Linked DNA regions of Homo sapiens: region 2 is linked to region 1. Evidence: fine-mapped expression QTL. A gene starts in region 1. The other region holds a variant in brackets. All regions are shown on one strand. Distances are between the middles of the regions. Region 1 holds the start of ACSL1 (acyl-CoA synthetase long chain family member 1). Region 2 holds the start of MIR3945HG (MIR3945 host gene).

Evidence for each region. PIP is the estimated chance that this variant, and not a neighbour inherited with it, causes the effect.
Region 2: its variant is fine-mapped to the expression of ACSL1 in whole blood (INTERVAL, PIP above 0.99).

What each region holds. Positions count from the first base shown.
Region 1 is chr4:184,819,705-184,831,314 of GRCh38, forward strand. ACSL1 (acyl-CoA synthetase long chain family member 1) reads right to left here and starts at 6,264. Exons shown (of 21, transcript NM_001995.5): 1 at 6,212-6,264. LOC105377587 (a long non-coding RNA gene) reads left to right here and starts at 6,467. Exons shown (of 3, transcript XR_939564.4): 1 at 6,467-7,267; 2 at 11,409-11,610. RefSeq lists enhancers at 5,513-5,582, 6,833-7,336, 6,943-6,992, 7,163-7,442 and a silencer at 5,753-6,712.
Region 2 is chr4:184,851,116-184,862,725 of GRCh38, forward strand. MIR3945HG (MIR3945 host gene) reads right to left here and starts at 4,537. Exons shown (of 3, transcript NR_132989.1): 1 at 4,354-4,537. The variant CA/C (reference allele first, on the strand shown) is at 4,981.

The DNA.
Region 1 (11,610 bases):
AGAAGCCCCTGACAGGCAAGGTAAGTAAACACCTGGAGCCTTATGGAGGGGAGCCTGGAAGGCTTCTGCTTAGGAGGGATTTGATCAGAGCTGTGATTTAGAAAAAGCAACCATCCCCCTCTGCACCCTGCCCCTCTTCCTAACAAAGGCCTTCACTGTTTAAATTGGAGGTGACAATTCTGGTTCACGATGGCAATACTGAGAAGGCAAGGAGGAAATGCATGTGTGTTGGGTAATACTGCACAGAGAGGGTCAGAATAAGCAGAACTGCTGACTGACTGGACTTCAGGGCAGAAACCAAGGGCAATACCGACGTCCAGCCATTCTTTGAACAGGCACAGGGCCCGGGAACAAACTCCACACGTGTGCATGGCCAGAGGGTCAGGCAGGTTGTGTTACCTTGGCCAAGTCACCCCCCTCCGATCCCTGCAGACTCCCAAGTAGCTGGGACTACAGGTGCCCACCACCATGCCTGGCTAATTTTTTGTATTTTTAGTAGAGACAGGGTTGCACCGTGTTAGCCAGGATGGTCTTGATCTCCTGACCTCATGATCCGCCCACCTCGGCCTCCCAAAGTGCTGGGATTACAGGCGTGAGCCACTGCACCCGGCCAGTCATGCGTCTCAATTGTTCTCCAGCCTTACAAGACCAATGTCCAGGGCAGGCAAAGCCTTTTATTTTTTAATTCTCTAGAAAGTCACAGCTACATAGCAAGTGATCTTATCACTCCCTGAGCCACGCTGAATCAAAATTTGTGGTCTCTTTCAGCACTCTAGTGGTATAAAGAGATAATTCAAGGCAGAGTGTAAATGAGATGGGGGTAAAATCAAGGAGCAGTGACACCGAAGGAGACCCAGCTCTGTCCTTCCTGTCTTACTGCCAGCTGTATAACCTGGAACTTTCTTTTTTTTTCTTTTGGAGACAGAGTCTCACTCTGTCACCCAGGCTGGAGTGCTGTGGCGCAATCTTGGCTCACTGCAGCCTCCGCCTCCTGGGTTCATGCGATTCTCCTGCCTCAACCTCCCGAGCAGCTGAGACTACAGGCACGTACCACCACGCCCAGTTAATTTTTGTATTTTTAGTAGAGACGGGGTTTCACCATATTGGTCAGGGTGATCCACCCGCCTCGGCCTCCCAAAATGCTGGGATTACAGGCGTGAGCCACCGCACCTGGCCTAACCTGGAACTTTCTAGGCCCTCCTGGAGTGAGAACTTCTAGCTCTGGAGGGGCAGTAGAGCCCAGCAATTAGGAGCACAGACCCTGAAGCCAGACTGCCTAGGTTCAAATTCTGGTATGGGGAACTTAATCTTTGCACCTGTTCCTTTATCTTGTGTACAGTAAGGATAGCAGCAGGACCTACCTTACAGGGTTGCTGAAGGTACTAATGAGTTAACCCATCAGAAGCTTAGCAGCACCTGGCTCTGTCTGCTGCTCTCATCACTGCTCTGTTCCTAAGCCTGGCCGTGTCCAGGCTGTGGCTACCACCTCGGTCAGCTACCACAGCCCTGCTTTGTGGCAGACACCTGGACCCTGAAGGAGAAACTAGCTCCGGAAGCACTTTCTCATGACTCTGCTTAATAAAGGAATAAATAGTATTCAGAGTGTTTCAGTCCTTCTTATATGGACATTTCTCCCACAACAAACCTAAGGGGAAAGTGCCCATTTCTATAGCAGCCAAAGCTGTGCTAATGGATAGAGCCTACATTTATCAGAAGTCCCCTCCAGAATGAGGAAATGGTCTACAGGCAGGCCCCGTTTCCTCCTCTGATGCCCTAACTTCTTTCCATTTCTCTTTCCAAACCATGAAATCCCTATTTCAACTGCTTTTGACTAGAATACATGAACCCAAAAGTCCATTAAACCTATTCATTAGTAAAAACACTTTTCAAATTATTGTTAATTTCAAGAGTTTTAAAGCAGAACATTTTTTATTTTTTAAAGACGTATTTAAACATATAACAAAGGTTGGTAAACTGTTCTGAAAAATATCCAACAAATGGGGAGAAGTAACTAAATTATGGCCCATACAGCAAATAATGCAGTCATCTTCAGAACTTATTTTTTGAAGAATATGTAACAACGTGTAAAAAAGCCCACAATATAACTTAGGTGATAAAGTTAAATTGTCAAAATTGTAATCTTTAATTAACAATGTATGCTTAAAATTTGTTTATTGTATAGGGAAAAAAGACTGGAAGGAAATATAACAAAATGTTAATAGTATTTAATCTCTGGAAGAGCTTCATTTTTCCTATTTCCCAAATTTTCTCCAGTAAGTATGTATGACTCTTAAAATATGAAAAACAAATACAGCTTTTCTGTGGCAAGTGGTTTTTAGATATTAGACAGCTTTCAGAATTTTATTTAAACTTGAAGACCAGCAAATAATTCATAAAGAGAATCAGCCCAGGCACCTATATGGAACCACCAGTTTTGAGATTTTATTTTATTGTTTTTACTTTTTTTTTTCTAGAGATGGGGTCTTGCTCTGTTGCCCAGGCTGGTCTTGAACTCCTGGCCTCAAGCAACAAGCTATTTGCCTCCAGATGATCACATCCTTCTAAGGCAGGCAGCACAGGGGAGCAGGGCCCTTACTCACCTCCACTTAAGTTTTTGTCCAAGGGTGACACCCTCCAAGCCAGCCACACTTCAAGGAGTCTCCAATATTTCACCCGCCCCTCTTGATTCCTCAAAGGTCATAAGTGAATCAATACTGTGTTGTTTCTAACACAGTCAAGAACATGAAAGTGGGCTGGGTGCAGTGGCTCACGCCTGTAATCCTAGCACTTTGGGGAGGCCAAGGAGGGCAAATCGCTTGAGCCCAGGAGTTCGAGACAACTGGGCAATATGGCAAAACCGCTTCACTACGAAAAAAATACAAAAATTAGCTGGGCATAGTGATGTGCGCCTGTAGTCTAAGCTACTGGAGAGGCTGAAGTGGGAGGATCAACTGAGCCCAGGGAGGTGGAGAGGCTGCAACGAGCCATGATCATGCCTGTACTCCAACCTGGGCGACAGAGTGAGACCTTATCTGGGAAAAAAGAAAAAAAAAAGAAAGTGAAAATGTCATGATGTAGAAAATGAACATAACTCAGATTATGTGATAGTTTTCTCTTCTTGCCATTATATACAACCCAAGGCTTGCCACAAACTGAAATTTCTTATGCATTGACATTCAGCATTTGATGTAAAATGACAATCTTAGAGTCGCTGCCACAAACCCTGGTAAAACTGCCCCTGCCTTCTCCAGTTCACTAAGTTCAGCTACTCCTTCAGGGCTTGTGCTCCTTTAAAACTTTTCAGAAGCCCCTTGAAGTACCAACATGTTGAAACTCAAACTCAACTGCCTGCAGCTTCAGATCAGCTCTGGCCACTGAGAATTCTTCTCCAGGCCCCAGTGTCAAAGGCACTTTTGACCATCATGTGTTTGTCTGACTACCAAGTTGGACTGCCAACCTTCACTAAAAACTCCGGCACCTTTATCTACCTCCTGTCAGATCACCGCCTGTCAGAGAGGGAGGCCTAAAAAGGCTTCAGGATATCAACAGCTTTGAGCTGCCTTAGAGGAACTTCTTTTCTATTTTGTAGTACAGGAGCCTCATGCACTGCATCATCCAAACAAGACTCTCCACAAAACATTACTAATGGATTCTAATTGAACAGAGTTTGGTTACAAGAGACAGTAAACACAAATGGGCACCTGTTTTAAATGGCAAACTTACACAATAAATTCAATTGATCTTAAAAACTAAACATTCCTCTAAGGTTACTGACTATAAATATCTAGAAATTACTACTCCTATAGTCTTGCTATTTCCAGACAAGTGAAACTGGAAGGGAGAGAGGAGAAATACCCAGTTATAATGACAAGACAACCTTATCTTTTCTCAAAAGCCTCCCCAAACACACAACCATTTTCCACAAAACAGTTACATCAAAAAAGATGTAGCAAGACCTAGACATTAAGCATGCTAGAAAGTAGGGACAGTTTTACCAGTGTTTGTGGCAGCAACTCTGAGATAGTCATTTTACATCAAATGCTAAATGTCAATGCATAAGAAATTTCAGTTTGTGGTAAGCCCTGGGTTATATATAATGGCAACAAGAGAAAACTATCACATAATCTGAATTACGTTCATTTTTCTGCATACACCATGCATGCTGGTACACTTTCAGTTAGCCTAAACTTCACCCAAAAGTAGAGGTGGCTATGAAAACTCTACCTGCATGGTATAAATAGATACCTAACCCTACATGCATGGGTCACTTGTATCTACCTCCTAAATACCAAAAACTTAGAAGCCCAGATTTCTTTTCAGTCAGGCTGCCTGCGATAACAATAAAAATACTGCCAAAATAGGAACAACAGAGACAGGAAGGAAATATGCCAAAATGCTTATAATTGTGGGGAAGGGTAATTTTTTGTTTTGTTTTGTTTTTTACAGAGTCCTGCTCTGTTGCCCAGTCTGGAGTGCAGTGGCGGGATCTCAGCTCATCACAACTTCTGCCTCCTGAGTTCAAGCGATTCTCCTGGCTCAGCCTCTCGAGTAGCTGGGACTAGAGATGCATGCCACCACGCCTGGCTAATTATTTGTATTTTTAGTAGAGATAGGGTTTCTCCATGTTGGTCAGGCTGGTCTCGAACTCCTGACCTCAAATGATCTGCCCGCCTCGGTCTCCCAAAGTGCTGGGATTACAGTGAGCCACCACGCCTGTCTGGGTAATTTTTTTTTAAGTATTCTGTTTACAGTAAATTCAGAAAACAGAAGTCTTTAATATGTCTGTTTTAAAGGGGAGAGGTATAAGGTGTGCGGCTAACAAGTTTATTTTTCTAGTCGCAGAATTTGGACTCGTGAAAGATTTTAGTCTAATGCAGTTTGTTCACAAATATAAGGAGGGGGGCCTCAGACTAGGGAGGTGTTTTCCGAGTTGAGTCAGAACAAGAAAGTAAGTCTCCCAAGACCTGGTCCTTTTCCACTATATCACACTGCACTGTCTGGCTCCAATCTGATGGCGAGCAATGGTTCCTTAAAAAGCTCCATCTTCTCAAGCCTACCCAGCACAGACCTACAACTCAAACTTTAAGTTTTAGCCAGCCTAACCTTCCACGTCCACTTGAAAAAAGAAAAAAAAGAAAGAAACAATCAACCGGAAGCCTTTGATTTTTTTGCTAGCAAGAAGCCAATAATTGTTTTCTTTGGGACAATCACAGGTTAAGTTGTGAAATGGGTGGCAGAAACTGCAAGATTTAACCAGTTTCTCTCAACGCTAATCAAAGGTCAAGAAAATAAAAGACAGGGCAGTGAGAGTCGCGGGACTTTAGACACTCCTGCACCAAGAAGCTTAAAAGTCTTAGCCAGGGCACTAGAGAACGCTTTTAGAATGGTCACTCTTAATTATGCTCCATAACCTTGAAATTGGACTGAGTGGGGAAGGGGTTTCCACACTCTCACAACGCACCGACTGGGGGAACGCCTGTCCCCAGACTCGAATCCACGTGTCCATTCAAGTCATCTACCGCCACTCTCCGTCTACGCTGCCAGGTGACAGACATCATCTTTGCTTCTCAATTTCAAAAAATGCCAGCACTCCTTAGATCAATGACTCCACGGCCAAGTGCAAGGGCCACGGGCACTCCTCTGGAGTCACCGAGAGAATGTCTGCCTCTGGCAGCGGCCTCTGAGCTGCCTGTGGGCCTCGTGCCGCCGCGCTGCGTGGGGCCGGCATCTCAGCGGGCGCGAGTGCAGTCTCGCCCCACGCGCGGTCCGAACGCCCGCGAGCCCGGCCTCTGGGCAGGCGGGGGCCGCGGACGAGGGCAACGTCAGCGGCCCAGCTGGGCCACCTCCTCCCAGCCGAAGCGCGGCCTCCGGCTGCTTCGCCGGGCCGGTCCCCGCCGCCGCACACACAAGGGTCGGTCCCGCGCGCATCCCCGGCCGCGCACCAGCCCCGCGCCCGCGCCGCCCGCGACTCAGACACAGGAAGCTGCGGCAGCACGGGCACCCCGGAGGCCTCCGGCTGCCGAGGGAAGCGGGGCCGCGGGCAGGAGGCCGGAAAGGCGGCGCGGCCCCACGAGCCTGGGGTGGCTCACGCGCCTCCGCGGCGGCCGCTGCTCCGGGCTCGGCCCTGAAGGGCAACGTCAGCCGGCGCCTCGGCCGGGGCCCGGGCACCGCCGCGGGAGCAGGCGCGGCTCCGCACGGCGGGCGCACTCACCTCCTCCGTGGACCGGCCGCTCCGCCGCCGGCTGTCACTGCAGCCCACTCCCTGCCCCGCGCCGGCTCTGGATGCTATTTAAGGCGCCGCTGGCGCCGCCGCCTCGGCCCGCTGGTTGCGCCCCCGCCACCGCCGCGGCTGAGCCAGGATGCTGCTGGTGCGCTCGCCGCGCCGGCCCCGCCCTCCCGCGGCCCCGCCCCGCCCGCAGGCCCCGCCCCCGGCAGGCCCCGCCCCGCCGAGCGCCCGGCCGCCCTCCTGTCTGGGCGCGCGTGGCTGGCGGGTGGCCGGCGGTCGAGAGGCTGCGGCGGGCGAACGCCGCTGGAGTCGCCCAGACTGCCTCGGATTTCATAATGAATCTGAGGAAGGACAAAGGGTACATTGGACCGCCTCAGCTCAGAGGCCCCGCGGACCCTGGGCCCCGCGATGCCCGAGGGGCGGGCGGCGCCCTCCGGATCCTGCACCCTCAGCCCGTGCCCCGCTGGCCTCCTGGCAGGCCGGGCAGAATTCTGCTGCGAGGGCCCTGGAGGCAAGGGCCTTCCTCTCCGTTTTTCCTTGACACTGACGGGCGCGGCCCCACAGGGTTTCCCCCACGCTCCCTGGCCGGAAGACCTTTTCTGTCTGGTGTCTGCAGAGCCTGACGTGGGCAGCGCCCGCAGCTCGCGCCGGTGCAGGGGAGCTGAGGGCCGACTGCGCGCTGCACCACGGCGGCCACCTGCTGTGCGGTTCTGAGGGCTTCCGCGGTTCTGAGGGCTTCCGCGTCCCTGCCATGCCCATCTTGGGGCTTCAGAAGCCAACACGATGGTTTTCGGGCTCACATCCCAAAGGCTGCTCTTCCTTTTAGCACCTGGGACCTACCAGGAACCTCAACCTCTAACAACATTGGTCCCCGTTACCGTGGAGTTTGCGCCCAGCGTTCGCTGGAGGGCCGTTTGAAGAATGATTGTTGTCGTAAAGGCCTTTGATAATAATAGATACTGTTTACCCAGTGCTTGATGCCAGGCATTGCTACAAACACTGCGTACACATTATTCTATTTAATCTTCATAACCCAGTGAGGTAGGTACTGTCATTACTGTCCTTTCACAGAAGAGGAAGCTGGGGCACAGAGGTTAAATGCTAGTGAGAGCAGTACCACACTTGGCACTCAGGCTGCCCCCAGAGTGTGGGCACAACCAACGCAGGGCTATGCCTGGGCTGCAGGCAGGGGAAACTGACCGTGGTTCGCTCCAGGCCTCAGCCACACTGCAGTTCACTCCCACAAATAACTGAAGGACTTTCCCTGGGTGTCTCCCACAGTGTGCTGGGCGCAGTGGTGCAGTGGGGTGAGGACAACGCACACACCAGCAACCTCTCTAGCAGCTCAGTCCTTTTAGATCTCCATCTTCCAGATCTAGAAAAAATGGACTCCACGTTCGTTTTCACTGGTTCCCGCTTGGCTAATCCCTGGTTTTTCTGTCCAGATCTCGCCTCCCCATCCGTGATTTTGTCATCTTTGCCTCTCCTTTTTCCTCTTCTCCAACCGGTCCCTCAGCCCCAGAACCTCTGCAGGCACCTCCCAAGTTCTGTGGTCTATTGTTTTCAAGGGCTGCTGGAACGAAGTACCACACACTAAGTGGCTTCAACAACCGAAATGTATGGTCTGTCCTGGTTCTGGAGACTAGAAGTACAAAATCACGGCGTGGGAGGGCTGGCTGCTTCCGAGGCCCATGAAAGAGCATGTGTGCCCGGCCACTCTGACTTGCAGATGCCCATCTTCTCCCTATGTCTCCTCACACCATCTTCCCTGTGGTGTGTGTGTGCAAATCCCTTCTTTCTATAAGGACACCAGTCATACTGGACTAGGGCCCACCCGAATTGCCTCATTTTAACTTGATGACCTCTGTAATCATGAGGTAATGTCCAAGTAAGGTCCCATTCTAAGATACCTGAATGCCCAGGCACGGTGGTTCATGCCTGTAATCCCAGCACTTTGGGAGGCCGAGGCAGGCAGATCAACTGAGGTCAGGAGTTCAAGACCAGCCTGGCCAACATGGTGAAACCCTGTCTCTACTAAAAATAAAAAAATTAGCGGGGCATGGTGGTGCGTACCTGTAGTCCCAGCTACTCGGGAGGCTGAGGCAGAAGAATTGTTTGAACCCAGGGAGGTGGAGGTTGCAATGAGCCAAGATCACGCCACTGCATTCCAGCCTGGGAGACAGAGCAAGACTCTGTCTCAAAACAACAACAACAACAACAACAAACCCCTGAACATATGAACTTGGGGAATGTGGGGGTGACAATTCAACCCGTAACATGTGGATGGTCGTCACTGGCTGTCTCACCTTACGTCTTCTCCTCAAGACACTTTTCTTTTAAACTGGGTGCCTCTCCCTGGGCTCTAGCCCTTAATGAGGTGATTTCCAACTCAAGGCTGGGAAAGGCACACAACCCAGTATCAGACCTGAGTTCACACTCCTTCTGGCAGGAACTTCTAGGTGACATTGGGAAGCAACTTCATTCCTTAGAACCTAGATTTCTCCTCAGGCTATAAGGGGGCTTGGCTAAATAATCTCTTAGGTCTCTTTCAGCACACACACTTAAAAAAAAACAAAAAAGTTTTTATCTAATCACTCCAAAAAGTTTTACAATGTATGGGGTTGTCTTGTGGACTTGAGATAGAGACTTTGATGGGAGGCAGTATTGCATAGTGGTTAAGAACACAGGCTTTGGGGTGGGTGAATCCACATCAAGCCTCATTGCATCCTCCTTAAATCAGGAATAATACCTACCTCAGACAGGTGTCATAGGATTGACAGCCACGCCCTTGGCGTTCTCATTAAATGAAGATTCCAGACTCTATAGTTGGGAGTTTGTGACTTAGGTAAGAAACCAGTCTCTTTTTTTGAGACGGAGTCTCACTCTGTTGCCCAGGCTGGGGTGCAGTGGTGCGATCTCGGCTCACTGCAATCTCTACCTCCTGGGTTCATGCCATTTTCCTGCCTCAGCCTCCCAAGTAGCTGGGACCACAGGCACCCACCACCACACCCGGCTAGTTTTTTGTATTTTTAGTAGAGATGGGGTTTCATTGTGTTAGCCAGGATGGTCTCGATCTCCTGACTTCGTGATCCACCCGCCTTGGCCTCCCAAAGTGCTGGGATTACAGGCGTGAGCCACCGCGCCCGGCCTTTTTTTTTTTTTTTTTTTTAAATGAAGGACATGATTGTTTTTAAAAATTGGGCCAGGTGCGGTGGCTCACACCTGTAATCCCAGCACTTTGGGAGGCAAATGCAGGAGGATTGCTTGAGTCCGGGAATTCAAGACCAGCCTGAGCAACATAGTGAGACCCTCCGTCTCTAAGAAAAAGTTTTTAAAAATTGTGTCACAGTGATCACAATGACCACTATTCACATCATAATGGCTTTTCTTTTGGCTATTAACACTGCAGTGTTTTTGTATACTGAAATGTGTCTGTGGGACCAACAGCATTAAAGAATAAAGATCCTAGATGAAAATAAACACTAATAATCCTGGTGTCCTCTCCAATAGAATTAATCTAAACTCCTTATGAATCAGTAGCATTATAATGTTATGTAGTTATGAGGAATAGAATTCTTTTAGAAGCAGGCAGCATGAACTTATACTTCCTTGTACTTACTTCTTTAAGAAACCAGTCTTAACCCTCCTTTCTACTGTCTTTTTTTTCAAGCATCTCTCTAGCCAAGGGAATAAGAGCCAATTGGATATTGTAGTGGTGCAAATTTCCTAGCGGAAATTTGAGTCTTTTTTCGGTCACTCCTGCCCTTGTTACATTTTGGCCTGATTAAAATGTTGTGGCTAATTCTGGCTAAATCCACATTGACATCTGCCTAACACCGATTGATCAATCTCCTGGAGAAGCTAAAGAGAACTGGGCCGGGTGCAGTGGCACATGCCTGTAATCCCAGCATGTTGGGAGGCCAAGGTCGGCGGATCACTTCAGCCCAGGAGTTTGAGACCAGTGTGAGCAACATGGCGAGATCCTGTCTCTACAAAAAATACAAAACTTAGCCCAGCATGGTGGTGTGCACCTGTAGCCTATAGTCCCAGCTACATGGGAGGCTGAGGTGGGAGGATCTCTTGAACCCAGGAGGTCGAGACTGCAGTGAACCGTGATTGCACCATTGCACTTTGGCATGGGCAACAGAGCAAGACCACATCAAAAAAAAAAAAGAAAGAAAGAAAAGAAAAAAAGAATCGAAGTCTTTCTGGGTCAAGCTGATTAGCAGGTTTACAGTGGCCTTGTCTCAAAAGTTCCCACTTGTGATTAGGAACTACAAAGCTGTGATTATTATTAATCTTCTGCACCTATTGCTTTTGAGCATGGCTATCTGAAGTATAGCCACATCAATTAATAATGGCCGATGAGCTTTTAATTACAGACCTCGGTAATTGGCTGGTTAAAGGAAGATTGGCATCAGTAACTGAGTTCTTTTTGTTCAATCCATTTTGGGACTGCAACTATATTAGGCATACATCCATGCCCCCATGAAACTGTAAGGGACTGGAAGGAGGCAGTGTGTCCCGTGAATCCTCATGAACCATCCCAGTCTTTCTTACTCCCCTGCACGTCCTCTTCATTTACACAGAGTAGGTATTCAATTGTTGAGTTGGACACATTTTTCTAACTACTCGATGTCAACCAAGGGTAGATCCACGTTTGGAGCCTTAAACTTACACAGTTTAGGGAACCTCTATAAGAAAATTACAAATACAAAGTTGGATACAAAAGTGAATGTTTCCTTTAGAATTAGAACAGAAATCACAGTAAACTACAAATTTTAAAAGTTTGGGCTTTCTAGGGCCTCCGGCAGTAGGGAAGGGAAAAAATGTTGCCCACATAATTGCAATCATAAATTTCACAAAATCCAGAAAAAAATCACCTAAAAATTTTATTAATTCTTTTTTCCTACCACTCTAATAAGTTTTTTTCCTGTGTTTTGGGCTGTGTACTAATGAATGTTTTCTTCATGCGACATTTTAAATAAACTTTATAAAACAGTTTTTGATGTATAGAAAAATTGCCAAGTTCCATAAACCCCCCACCCAATTTCCACTGATTAACATCTTAGATTAACATTTGTGATGATGACTGAGCCAATATTGACACATTATTATAACCAAAGCCCATCCATTGTTCAGATTTCATCCGTTTTTACCCAGCGTCCTTTTTCTGTCCCAGGATATCAACCAGGATATGGCATTGCATTGGATCCCAACCAGGATATGACGTTACATTGGATCCCAACCAGGATATGGCATTGCACTGGATCCCAACCAGGATATGGCATTGCACTGGATCCCAACCAGGATATGGCATTGCGTTGGATCCCAACCAGGTTATGGCATTACATTGGATCCCAACCAGGTTATGGCATTGCATT
Region 2 (11,610 bases), 31 kb after region 1:
TCTCTCAGAAAGACCTCATCTTATTTGAGGTGATATTTGAGTACATAGTTCCTTTTAGGGTACTGGGGACCTTTTTGGTGGTAGGGTGGAGAGTGTGCACCACAGAGACTAGTCACCAAGAGTCCCTGCAGTTAAGTCTGCGTATCCTGTGCTGGTGAAGGGTGGATGGGCTTTATGCAAATCTCTGCTTGGCTGCAGAATCTCCCAGTGAGATGAGCAAGGGTGCTTTGCAGTCAGTGTTGAAACCCCAGAAGAGCAGGAAATGATGCTGTTCCTGCCCAAAGGCAGAATGAAATGCAAGGAAAGGAGAAAAACATTATGACATAAGTATTAAGAAAGATGCTGTTTACGGGAACTCTGAAAGACTGGAATTCAGAGCCGCTACCAATTAAGAAAGTTAATGATGACTTGCAGCAGGTTTGCAGAAAGTGAAAGGAAGGTGAGGCTATTTAATTGCCACCATAACAGAAGAACTTGTAGAAAATAGGAATGGGATCACAATCATTATTAACTCATAAAAAATTTATAGGGTGCCATTTCTAATACGACACTGTGCAGGGATACTGCAGTCTAGCGTTACCTCCAGTTTAGACAGGCTGAAATACATACAGTTTCTCATCTGTATGAGATAAGGTGATATAAAATGAAGCTGATCGGGCTAGTTTATTGGATAAAACCAACAACGAAGGGAAATAAGTAACTATTTATACAACATGGTAACTATCTACATTGTTCATTAGCAGACGATGTTTGTAACTGGAGATGAAATGCATTAAGCATGTTTGGGAAAGGAATAAATGGGATGTAACCATGGAAGTCCTATGCTTAACCAGGGTGGGGAGGGGGGCAGGGATATAGAGAACTTCAACTAGACAGGCCTGGTGGAGAAAGTGTGTGTCTAAGAATTACTTGCAAAGTGAGCTGTGTCAGGGAGCATCCTGGTGCATGCTCCAAGATATGTTGGATAACAGTTGAGTACAACTCATGATGGAATTACAAAACTCCAAGATACAGTTGGATAGTTGGGTAACAGTTGAGCATCACCATGATGGAAGAGATGAAGAGACTTTTTGAATGTGTTTGAGAGGAGTGAAATGAATCCTACAATGATAATAATAATAATTGCTATTATTTTTTCAGACACGTGTGAAACCAGAAAAAAATAAATTAGGTGAAAGAATCTTCATTCCTGGTGACACCTTAGAAGAAGAAACAGACAATCTTGGATGGATTTGTTAAAGATCAGAGGATCCATAATGTCATGCAAAATGGTGGGATTGGGGGCAAACAGATCAAGTTGATGAGTGGGGTTAGCAACAGTGAGACCTGAAAGAGAAAACAAGTTAACAGAAGCCAGACTAAGTGCAGGACTAACCTGCACCCTAAGAGGGTGCAGGCTCAGGAACCAGTCCATGAGGAGTTGCACCATAGTAAGGGGTAGAGATGAACTGAAGCTCGCTCATGATTACCAGCGGTATTGGCCTCTCCAAGAACTAAAAATAACCTCCTTCTTTGTCTTGCTGTTACTTCCAAGCCACAGCCGAGTTCTCTCTCTATACTTACACCTCAGATGAATGAGCAGTGCCTGTGGCTGTGGCCAGTGTCTTTTATTCCCACCTGGTTCCTCCCAGTCTGTGTTCCATGTTGTCACTGCCCCAACTGCACAAGCCTTTTCCTAGTCCTCAATCTTTTCTCCCCACAGCAGCCCTGGGCACAGTAGACCTCCCTAGCCTTTTGAGGAACCTCTTCTGTTACCTGACTGCTGTGGTCTACGTGACCATCTTACCTCTTCCTCTGCATTTTCCTTGTGTCTGTCACTGACTCTCTCCCGTGTCCCGCTCCCCAACTGTGGGTGCCCCAGATGTGTCAATCCTCATTCTCCGATCTTCTCTCTTTATACTAGATTCTAATTCACCTTTATTCATCTATACTCCCAGAGTCAAGTTTTGATTATGTATATATAACCAAATGGCATATAACTCTATCTATCTATCTATCTATCTATCTATCTATCTATGCCATCTCATTTCATGTCTTCACGAAATATCTGTTAGCTGTTTTTCTCCAGATTATCATCCTTCCTTAAGTGCTGTTGTGGTAGCAGTGGTGGTGGTAGTAGCAGTAGTAACAGCAACAACCTCTATCATATAGTAAATGCTAACTATATCTCAGGTGCTTTAGTAAAATCTCATTTAAGCCTTTCAATGTTATACATTGATATTGCTGTTGAACACATTTTATAGAGGAGGAAACAATCTCAGCAGGTTTAACGGTGGTTCCCAGTCACACAGCTAACACAGAACACGGCCTTGAACTCAGATTTTGTCTGACTAAAGTTTGTCATCCTATTTCTGTGCTAAAGCTTCTACAGCAGTCCCTGTTGCTTACCAGGTGAGGCCCAGCATCCTCACGGACCATCCCGGATCTCCGTAACGTAGCTCCACTGATCTGCTCCAGTGACTGCCTTCTGCTCCCAGAGTGGCACCTCCTTAACCACCCTCACCTTCCTACGCAGTGAATGAAGTGCAGACATGAATCCTGAGTCTGCCATTTAGTACTTCTCTAAAACTGACTTCTTGTATTTGTAAAATACCCGCCTCACAATCTCAGGATTGCTGTGAGCATCGTATATAATGAGTGCAAAGGGCCCGGCATAGTGCAAGGGACATGATAGGTGCATAACGAATAGGACCCACTGAGGCTGTTACTCATATTTCTGCTCTTGTGCCTTGTTCGTGTTATTCTCTACATATGAAATGTTTGTACTTCCTATTGCTCTGGCCTGACAGTCCTTAAGGGCTAAATTCCATCTTTACTAAATGTTTCCTTGGCTCTAACACACATTGATCTCTCCCCTCCCCAATTCTGAATGCACTTTCTTTTTTCTTTTTTTTTTTTTTGAGACAGAGTCTCGCTCTGTCGCCCAGCCTGGAGTGCAGTGGCGCGATCTCGGCTCACTGCAAGCTCCGCCTCCCGGGTTCATGCCATTCTCCTGCCTCAGCCTCCCGAGTAGCTGGGACTACAGGCGCCCACCACCACGCCCAGCTAATTTTTTGCATTTTTAGTAGAGACGGGGTTTCACCGTGTTAGCCAGGATGGTCTCGATCTCCTGACCTCGTGATCTGCCCGCCTCGGCCTCCCAAAGTGCTGGGATTACAGGCGTGAGCCACCGTGCCCGGCCCTCTGAATGCACTTTCTATATACACCAGGTGGCTGGTGTTATCTACTGTCTTATTCTTGAATGGCTTTGGGTAAGCGAGCCTCATAAGTTACTGGTGAGCTTGCTTGTATTGCTTCTGTGCTCCTCTCAAAGCTACTGGCACACTGTACCAAAGTGATTTGTTCATTGATTGATGGAGAAATGTAAACATTGGGACAAATCAGAGAGAAAAAAGGGCAAATTGGACATTATCTTGTTCGATTTCAGTTGGCAGTCAATGGTTTGTGTTCAAATTATCCTACAGAGGCTTGAACCAGGAGGGGAGGTTCAGAAAACAGATGGTGGGAAAGAGAACAGATCTCTGTATTATGGAGCTTTGACTTTAAAATTATTTCTCTTAAAGAAGAGATAGACCCAAAAGGAAATGATCTGAGATAAATTTCCAGGGACCAGTAAGACAGAAGTACCACTAAATATGAAGAGGCAGTGGACTGGGAATAATGAGAGAAGACCCAGGCAATCATGCCTGTAAGTTACGATAAAGAAAACAGGAAGCACATTTCGACAGAAAAACCATACTTTACATTAAAGAAGTGAGATTGTGTCTGTTGCAAGAGTGAGAGGGAAAGCCCGCAACGACCTCAGGGACCCAGTGAATTAGCTCACGGGAAGCCCAGGGCCTCTTTTGCTAGCTGCTAATGAAGGGAATTAGATAACCATGTTATTTTGAAAGAAAACAGATTATGTTTATTGAATGATCTAAAAGAAGCGAAAAGGGCTAGGTAAAGATGCCATGTTTTGGATTCTGATGTTGGGTCACACCAGGGCGCCCATTCTTCTGTATTCACAAAATGCCCAAATAGGGAGAGGTCTTGCCAGGCGCGTGAACTCGCCACTGTGGCTGAGCAACAAAGGTACATTGAAAGGAAGCGTGTGTGTTTGTGGCTTTGAGCCCCTTTTCCTATTCTGCTGAAGATTAGGAAATTATAGGTTATACTGCTTGAAATGAAGACAGAGTAAATGGTAGGAGGGTTGTAAATCACCTGCGAAGCACCGTCTTCGACCATGCCATATAGCAAGGCTACCCAAAACACTCCAGTCTCTAATTTGTTCAACTTAAAGAATAAGAGGGATATGTCAGTCAGGACCTGCTAACTGCTGTATCAGACAACCCCAGATCCCTAACGACTTACCTCACAGTCATCAGGGGCTAGACAAGTGACCTTCCACACGATAATTCAGAGATACTGCTCCTTTCCTGTAGTTCTCCAGTCCTCAGCACAGGGTCTCAAGATCATCTAGCATCGACCAGTCAGCAAATGTCGGAAGAGGAAAGATAGCTTCCTTAGTCCCTAAGAGACAGCATCTCGTTTTCACTACATTCCACTGGTGAGAACTACTCATATGGCCACACCTAGACACAGCGGTGACTGGAAAGTTAATTTGATTGTGTTTCCAGGAAAAGGAGATAGGCTTGGTGAGTCAGTCTCTCTAGAGGAAAATATGGAACTGGGTTGGATTAAAAAAAATCCAGGCTGGGCGCGGTGGCTCATGCCTGTAATCCCAGCACTTTGGGAGGCCAAGGCGGGTGGATCACCAGAGGTCAGGAGTTCGAGACCAGCGTGGCCAACATGGTAAAACTCCGTCTCGATTAAAAATTAAAAAAAAAAAATTAGCCGGGTGTGGTGGTGGGCGCCTGTAATCCCAGCTACTCAGGAGACTGAGGCAGGAGAATAGCTTGAACCCGGGAGGCAGAGGTTGTAGTGAGCTGAGACTGCACCACTGCACTCCAGCCTGGGTGACAGAGTGAGACTCCGTCT[CA/C]AAAAAAAAAAAAAAAAAAAAAAATTCAGGTAATGATTTATATGTTTCTATCAAGCAATATGCCTATAAACATGGAATGATTGAATTTTCAGTTTCAAATACATGTTTTGGGTTGTGAAGACTCAAAAAGCTTGTGGGTCTCTTTGTTTTTGTCAAAGTATATGAATAAACGAGGATTGCAGAAGTTTACTTGTGGAATGAATGCATTAGTAAATTAATGAAGCTTTCTCCTGTACTGAAAGAAGAGTATAAGGTCATGACTCATGGTCATGAGGTAGGAAATAATTCTGCTCACCAAGAAACAAGGACATTTTAAATATCTAAAAAAGCAGAAATGAGAAAGGAAGCATGAAAAATAATCATTTAGCCAACAGTTACAGCACCTACTGACAGACAGAAAGTACAGGGCATTGACATAGTTTAAATCCAGTGACTTCCGTTTTTCCTAATAGAATCAGAGTGATAATGCATTTTAAAGGTTATTTTTATTATTTCATGTCTCCAAACCATTTTCAGAGGGAAATTATCATGGCTGTCACAACAGTAGCTTAATACACAAGGTTGATGGTATTTTACAAAAGTGTCACAAGTGGATTTTAAAGTTAAAAAAAAAAAGGGGGGCTGAGTGCAGTGGCTCATGTCTGTAATCCCAGCACTTTGGGAGGCTGAGTCGGGCGGATCACCCGAGGTCACGAGTTCGAGACCAGCCTGGACAACATGGTGAAACCCCGTCTCTACTAAAAATACAAAAATTATCCAGGTGTGGTGGTGCGCGCCTGTAATCCCAGCTACTCTGGAGGCTGAGGCAGGGGAATCACTTGAACCCTGGAGGCAGAGGTTGCAGTGAACTGAGATTGCACCACTATACTCCAGCCTGGGTGACAGGGGGAGACTCCATCTCAAAAATAAAAAATAATAAATAAGGTTAAAAAAAAGATCAGTATGATATAGCTTATATGAATAGAAAAGATGATTCTCGAACAATAGCATGAGGCATATGAGTTGAAAATAAAGCCTAGAGGTCTTCACCTACAGCAGAGAAAATTTTCACTCTCCCCCACCCCACAGAAGACAGACAGACCTACCCCAAAATTAAAATGACATTAGCCCCATAAGCATGTTTCCCTCCTCAGGTAACAAAGAAGATACCTCAGTTCTAAATCCACACAGTTTTAAAGATGTCATATATTTAATGCTCTTTTTTTTTTCTTTTTTTTTTGAGATGGAGTCTTGCTCTGTCACCCAGGCTGGAGTGCAGTGGCACGATCTTGTCTCACTGCAACCTCTGCCTCCCGGGTTCAAGCAATTCTCTGCCTCAGCCTCCCGAGTAGCTGGGATTACAGGTGCCCGCCACCACATCCAGCTAATTTTTGAATTTTTAGTAGAGACGGGGTTTCACCATCTTGGCCAGTCTGGTCTTGAACTCCTGACCTCGTGATTCACCTGCCTTGGCCTCCCAAAGTGCTGGGATTACAAGCGTGAGCCACCATGCCCGGCCTAATGCTCATTCTAACTAGAAGGAAGTAAAGCCTCAGAACAGTAAAATGATTTGCCACATGTCACAGTTGCAATAAACAGTTCAAGTCCACTCCATAAAGAGATACTAGCAATCCTACGGTTTGTCGAAAGCCAGGCTTCTCGGATAACAAAATATTCTAGGTTCTTTGACAAAATGGGTGATGGGAAGTAAGGAGGAGGGCCTAGTTTCTGAAGCTGCAGGTCATGTAAGGAGCTTGCCCTCAGGCTGGCAAGGCCTAGGAATGGGGGGTGCAGGCGGCCTTCAAGTGCCTGGGGGCCAAGAGGAAGTGCTGCTGTCCCCTGAAATCTTTTTATGGGAGGAACTGACACTGTGGGTCTGTTCAAGTCCCCAAAATGGGGACAGGCTGGGGGCTGAGGACACAGACTCAAGGCCCCTCATTGGCAGTCATGGCCAGGCCAAGGAGCCCAGCTCAGGGCTGCTGGCTTATTCTCAAGCCCCCCAGGGATGTGAAGAGGGGTGCAGAGACTCACGTTTTGCACCCACGGAGTCCAGGACTGGGGTGTTAGAAGTGGGGTAGATTTAGTGGACACAGCAGATCAAGTGCATGTGAAGAGCGCCGCAGCAGCTCTGCATCTCCCAAAGGTCCCAGCTGGTCCTCTGAAGACCCGGGATCACAACTCCACATCGTCACCTCGGGGTCCCAAAGGTCCCAGCTGGTCCTCTGAAGACCCGGGATCACAACTCCACATCGTCACCTCGGGGTCCCAAAGGTCCCAGCTGGTCCTCTGAAGACCCGGGATCACAACTCCACATCGTCACCTCGGGGTCCCAAAGGTCCCAGCTGGTCCTCTGAAGACCCGGGATCACAACTCCACATCGTCACCTCGGGGTCCCAAAGGTCCCAGCTGATCCTCTGAAGACCCGGGATCACAACTCCACATCGTCACCTCGGGGTCCCAAAGGTCCCAGCTGGTCCTCTGAAGACCCGGGATCACAACTCCACATCGTCACCTCGGGGTCCCAAAGGTCCCAGCTGGTCCTCTGAAGACCCGGGATCACAACTCCACATCGTCACCTCGGGGTCCCAAAGGTCCCAGCTGGTCCTCTGAAGACCCGGGATCACAACTCCACATCGTCACCTCGGGGTCCCAAAGGTCCCAGCTGGTCCTCTGAAGACCTGGGATCACAACTCCACATCGTCACCTCGGGGTCCCAAAGGTCCCAGCTGGTCCTCTGAAGACCTGGGATCACAACTCCACATCGTCACCTTGGGGTCCCAAAGGTCCCAGCTGGTCCTCTGAAGACCTGGGATCACAACTCCACATTGTCACCTTGGGGTTGTAGACCCAGGCAAGTTGTTTGTACTCATGACGGTGCAGCTCCTTTTTTTGAAAGGGGGGAATAAGACAGCTGATCAGTAGGCCAGACCTCAGTGAGCTCACTGTGTGCAAAGTTCACACCTGGAGCAGATGGCAGAGTTGCTGGAGGCTCAAAGGCTCTGAGGCACGTGGAAGTGGCTTCAGGGCAGGGCAAGAGAGGCTGTTACACTTTCCAGTCACCTCCTCTCTGGCACCAGCAACCCATTCTTCCAGATTTTTCCTCACAGTTCCATTATACATTTTCTCCCCATATGATAAAGTGTTGGGTTAGACTGAGGCCATTAAGAAAGGGCTACCTACCTAGATAATATCATAACCTCTATCTATTTAAGTAAAATGTTACTGAAATGTTACTAACAGTCAACATTATTGAATCTTTCATCAGTTGCCAGGTTCTATGATAGATGCTCTTTTTTTACCTTCATTACCCCTCCTTCGGTAACCCCACAACCTGGTGTCTATGACTAGCACCAGTTTACAAATGGGGACACTGAGACGCACAGAGGTTACAACCATCAAATGGTGGAATTGGGACTTGAACTCAGGAAGCCTGAGCTTTATAACCTCCAAACTACATAGCCTTCCTTAGAGAAAACTACTAGATCATGAACAAGTCAGAACAGAGAGTAGAGAAGAAATTTTCCATGGAAGAGCTGATAATTGGAGATTTTGGGGAGAGGGAGATGAAAAGAATTGAAATGGAGAAGAAAAATCCGTTTTTGTGGGGGAAAATATAGAAAGTAAGATTTGTCTTGGAATGAGATTAAAATGAAACCATCAGAGCTGGTTTTATTTATTCATCATATACTCATAAATTAAACATCCATTCATTAGCTAAAATTAAACATCCTATCAGCCTTGAGGGGACTCACAGTCCAAAAACCAGATGTTCCTACACTTCCAAAATCTAGCTCAATGATGAGAGAGGTTTCTGACAGAGAGGGAGTGGAAGTTACTGCCTAAAATAGATCCCTAGGCCAAGGGATATAGAAGAATAACAGTAGCCAAAGATGCCAGGGACCATCGTGTGGATCTCTTTCATCTCATACTCCTGGGGCGCAGGCTGCCAGAGATGAGAGAGAGCTGTGGGGTCTGAGGGATTCCTCCTATCTCCGCACAGAGGAGGTGGGGCGTGGGGCGGTGTCCCTTTGCAGCCATGATCAAGGAAGCAGAGTTTCATTCATCTGGGTTAGACTGCCTCTCCTAATATCAGCCAAGATCAGACAAGAATGAACAAAAACTCAGGGTCAATTAGTTGGGTATGGAGAGGAAATGTAGAAATGAGGCCACTGGGGACTTTTTGCATTGCAAAGCCCTGAAATTCTCGGTTTTGCTATGTTGCAAGAGGAGCCCCAAATTAGCAACGATTTCTTGGAGGAAAGGTGCCCAGCCCTTTCATTTATTAACCTCTGCCTGATATTTTCAGACAGCTTTTCGAATCTCTAGGAGGGTTATGGCCTGGTATAAGCAGAGGAGGGGTCAAGACAATTATCCAAGAGCTATTGCAGGACTATTGTTAAAAGAATAAAAATCCTAGCACCAAAAAAAGAGAAGCTCTGGATCTTTTGAACACCGATGTAAACACCCACTGGGTGGAGTGAGGGGGACTGACAGATCACTAGAGTCCGGATGCCTCTGGAAGCCAGAAAGCCCAAAGCATAGTCGGGAGACAGCAGGATGGCGGACTGAGCAGGCGCCACTCTCTTGCTCCGTAAGTTCCGATCCTCCTGCATCCCTCCCTCATCATCATCGGACCTGGTCCTCTCTGTATTGATGAGGTGTGTGCTCACGGCATAAGCCCAGGAGGAAGAGGAAAATTAACAATCATCTCAGGCCAACATTGATTTCATAATTGCCTCCCTTCTTCCATTTATATTTTCCCCATACATAAAAATACAATGCCCATTGGAAAGATTTGGAAAATATATAAAGGGGCAAAAAAGAAAGAATCTTCTTATAACCCCAGTGTGCGTTACACCCTCCACTAGAGCAAGGGGCTGTTTGTCTTGTTGACCAAGCTCTGTCCCCAGAACCAGAAGAGTAACTGGCACAAGTAGGGGCTCAATAGAATTATCTTTTTTCAATGAATCAATGAATCAATGAATACTCTGAGATTACATCTTAATATCTCATTACACATTGTCCTATATCTCAAAGCATGTGTTTTTAAAAAAATCACTCACACGGTTTTTTTCTACGCATTTTCTATTGTGGTAAAATATACTAACATAAAAGTTACCATTTTAGCCACTTTCAAGTGTAAATTCAGTGGCAGTGTTTCTTCACAATGTGGTTCAACCATTACCACATCCAGTTCCAGAACTTTTTCTGGAAAAAGAAACCGAAACTCTGTACCCACCAGAGAATAATTCTCCATTGGTCCTTCCCCTCAGCCCCTGATAACCTCTATTCTACTTGCTGTCTCTAATAATTCGCCTATTCTAGGTAACTCCTATAAGTGGAATCATAGAGGATTTGTCGTTTTGTGTCTGGCCTATTTCAGTTAGATAATGTTCCCAAGGTTTACTCATGTTGTCACATATAGTGCCATTTAATTCCTTTTAAAGGCTAAAAAATGGCTGGACGTGGTGGCTCATGCCTGTAATCCCAGCACTTTGGGAGTTGACCAGGTGACTCTAAAGTTTATGGGAAAATTAAAAGGACCACAAACATTCTACGCATGTTTGTGCGTGGATCATCTGAGGTGGGTGGATCATCTGAGGTCAGGAGATCGAGACCAGTCTGGCCAACGTGGCGAAACCCCATCTATGCTAATAATACAAAAATTAGCCAGGCATGGTGGCGCATGCCTGTAGTCCCAGCTACTTGGGAGGCTGAGTCAGGGAGAATCTCTTGAACCCAGGAAGCAGAGGTTGCAGTGAGCCAAGATTGCACCACTGCACTCCAACCTGGGCGACAAGAGCGACACTCTATCTCAAAAAAATAAAATAAAAAATAAAGGCTAAAGAATATGCCATTGCATGTATGTCAATGCTACGTGTTGTTTCTCATCCATCTGCTGCTGGTAAGCGTTTGGGCTGTTTCCAGTGTATCCAGTTTGCATCTCCTTCTTTCACTTTATAATTACTAGCATTTCTTCATTTTATTAAATTGCCTTCAGGAAACATTTCCTCTGATTGACTGCCAGTCTCACTATAGGTGGACATGGTAATCTAATCATTTTGGTGTGTGTGTGTGTGTGTGTGTGTGAACATTTAGGTGATTTCATACTTTTGCCACGGCAAATAAGGCTGCAGCACCCTCAGACATAAAACTTTAGCCAAGTGTGTGATCAATATTATTTTCAAAGGATAGATTCCTAGAAGGTGAAACACCGTGATGGAGGATATGAAATTCTAAACATCTCCATGTTTTCTTTCCAATTGGCTTGTCAAATGGCTTTCCAGATAGGTTGTACCTGTGTGCACTCTTCCAGGTGTGCATAAAAAAATCAGTTTATTACACTCTCGCCAGCATGGAGTGTTATCATTTATGATGTCTTTGCTAATTTGATTGATGGAAAGTGGTGTTCTGTTGATTTAATGTGCTTTAGATTGGTTACTTGACCTTCCTCTGGGATAACTCCTTCTGTTTGTGGTCCTTTTAATTTTCCCATAAACTTTACAGTCACCTGGTCAACTGCCACAAAAAATAAACCTGAAACTTCTTTTGTTTTTGTTTCTGTTTCTTTTGAGACGGAGTCTTGCACTGTCGCCCAGGCTGGAGTGCAGTGGCGTGATCTTGGCTCACTGCAACCTCCACCTCCCGGG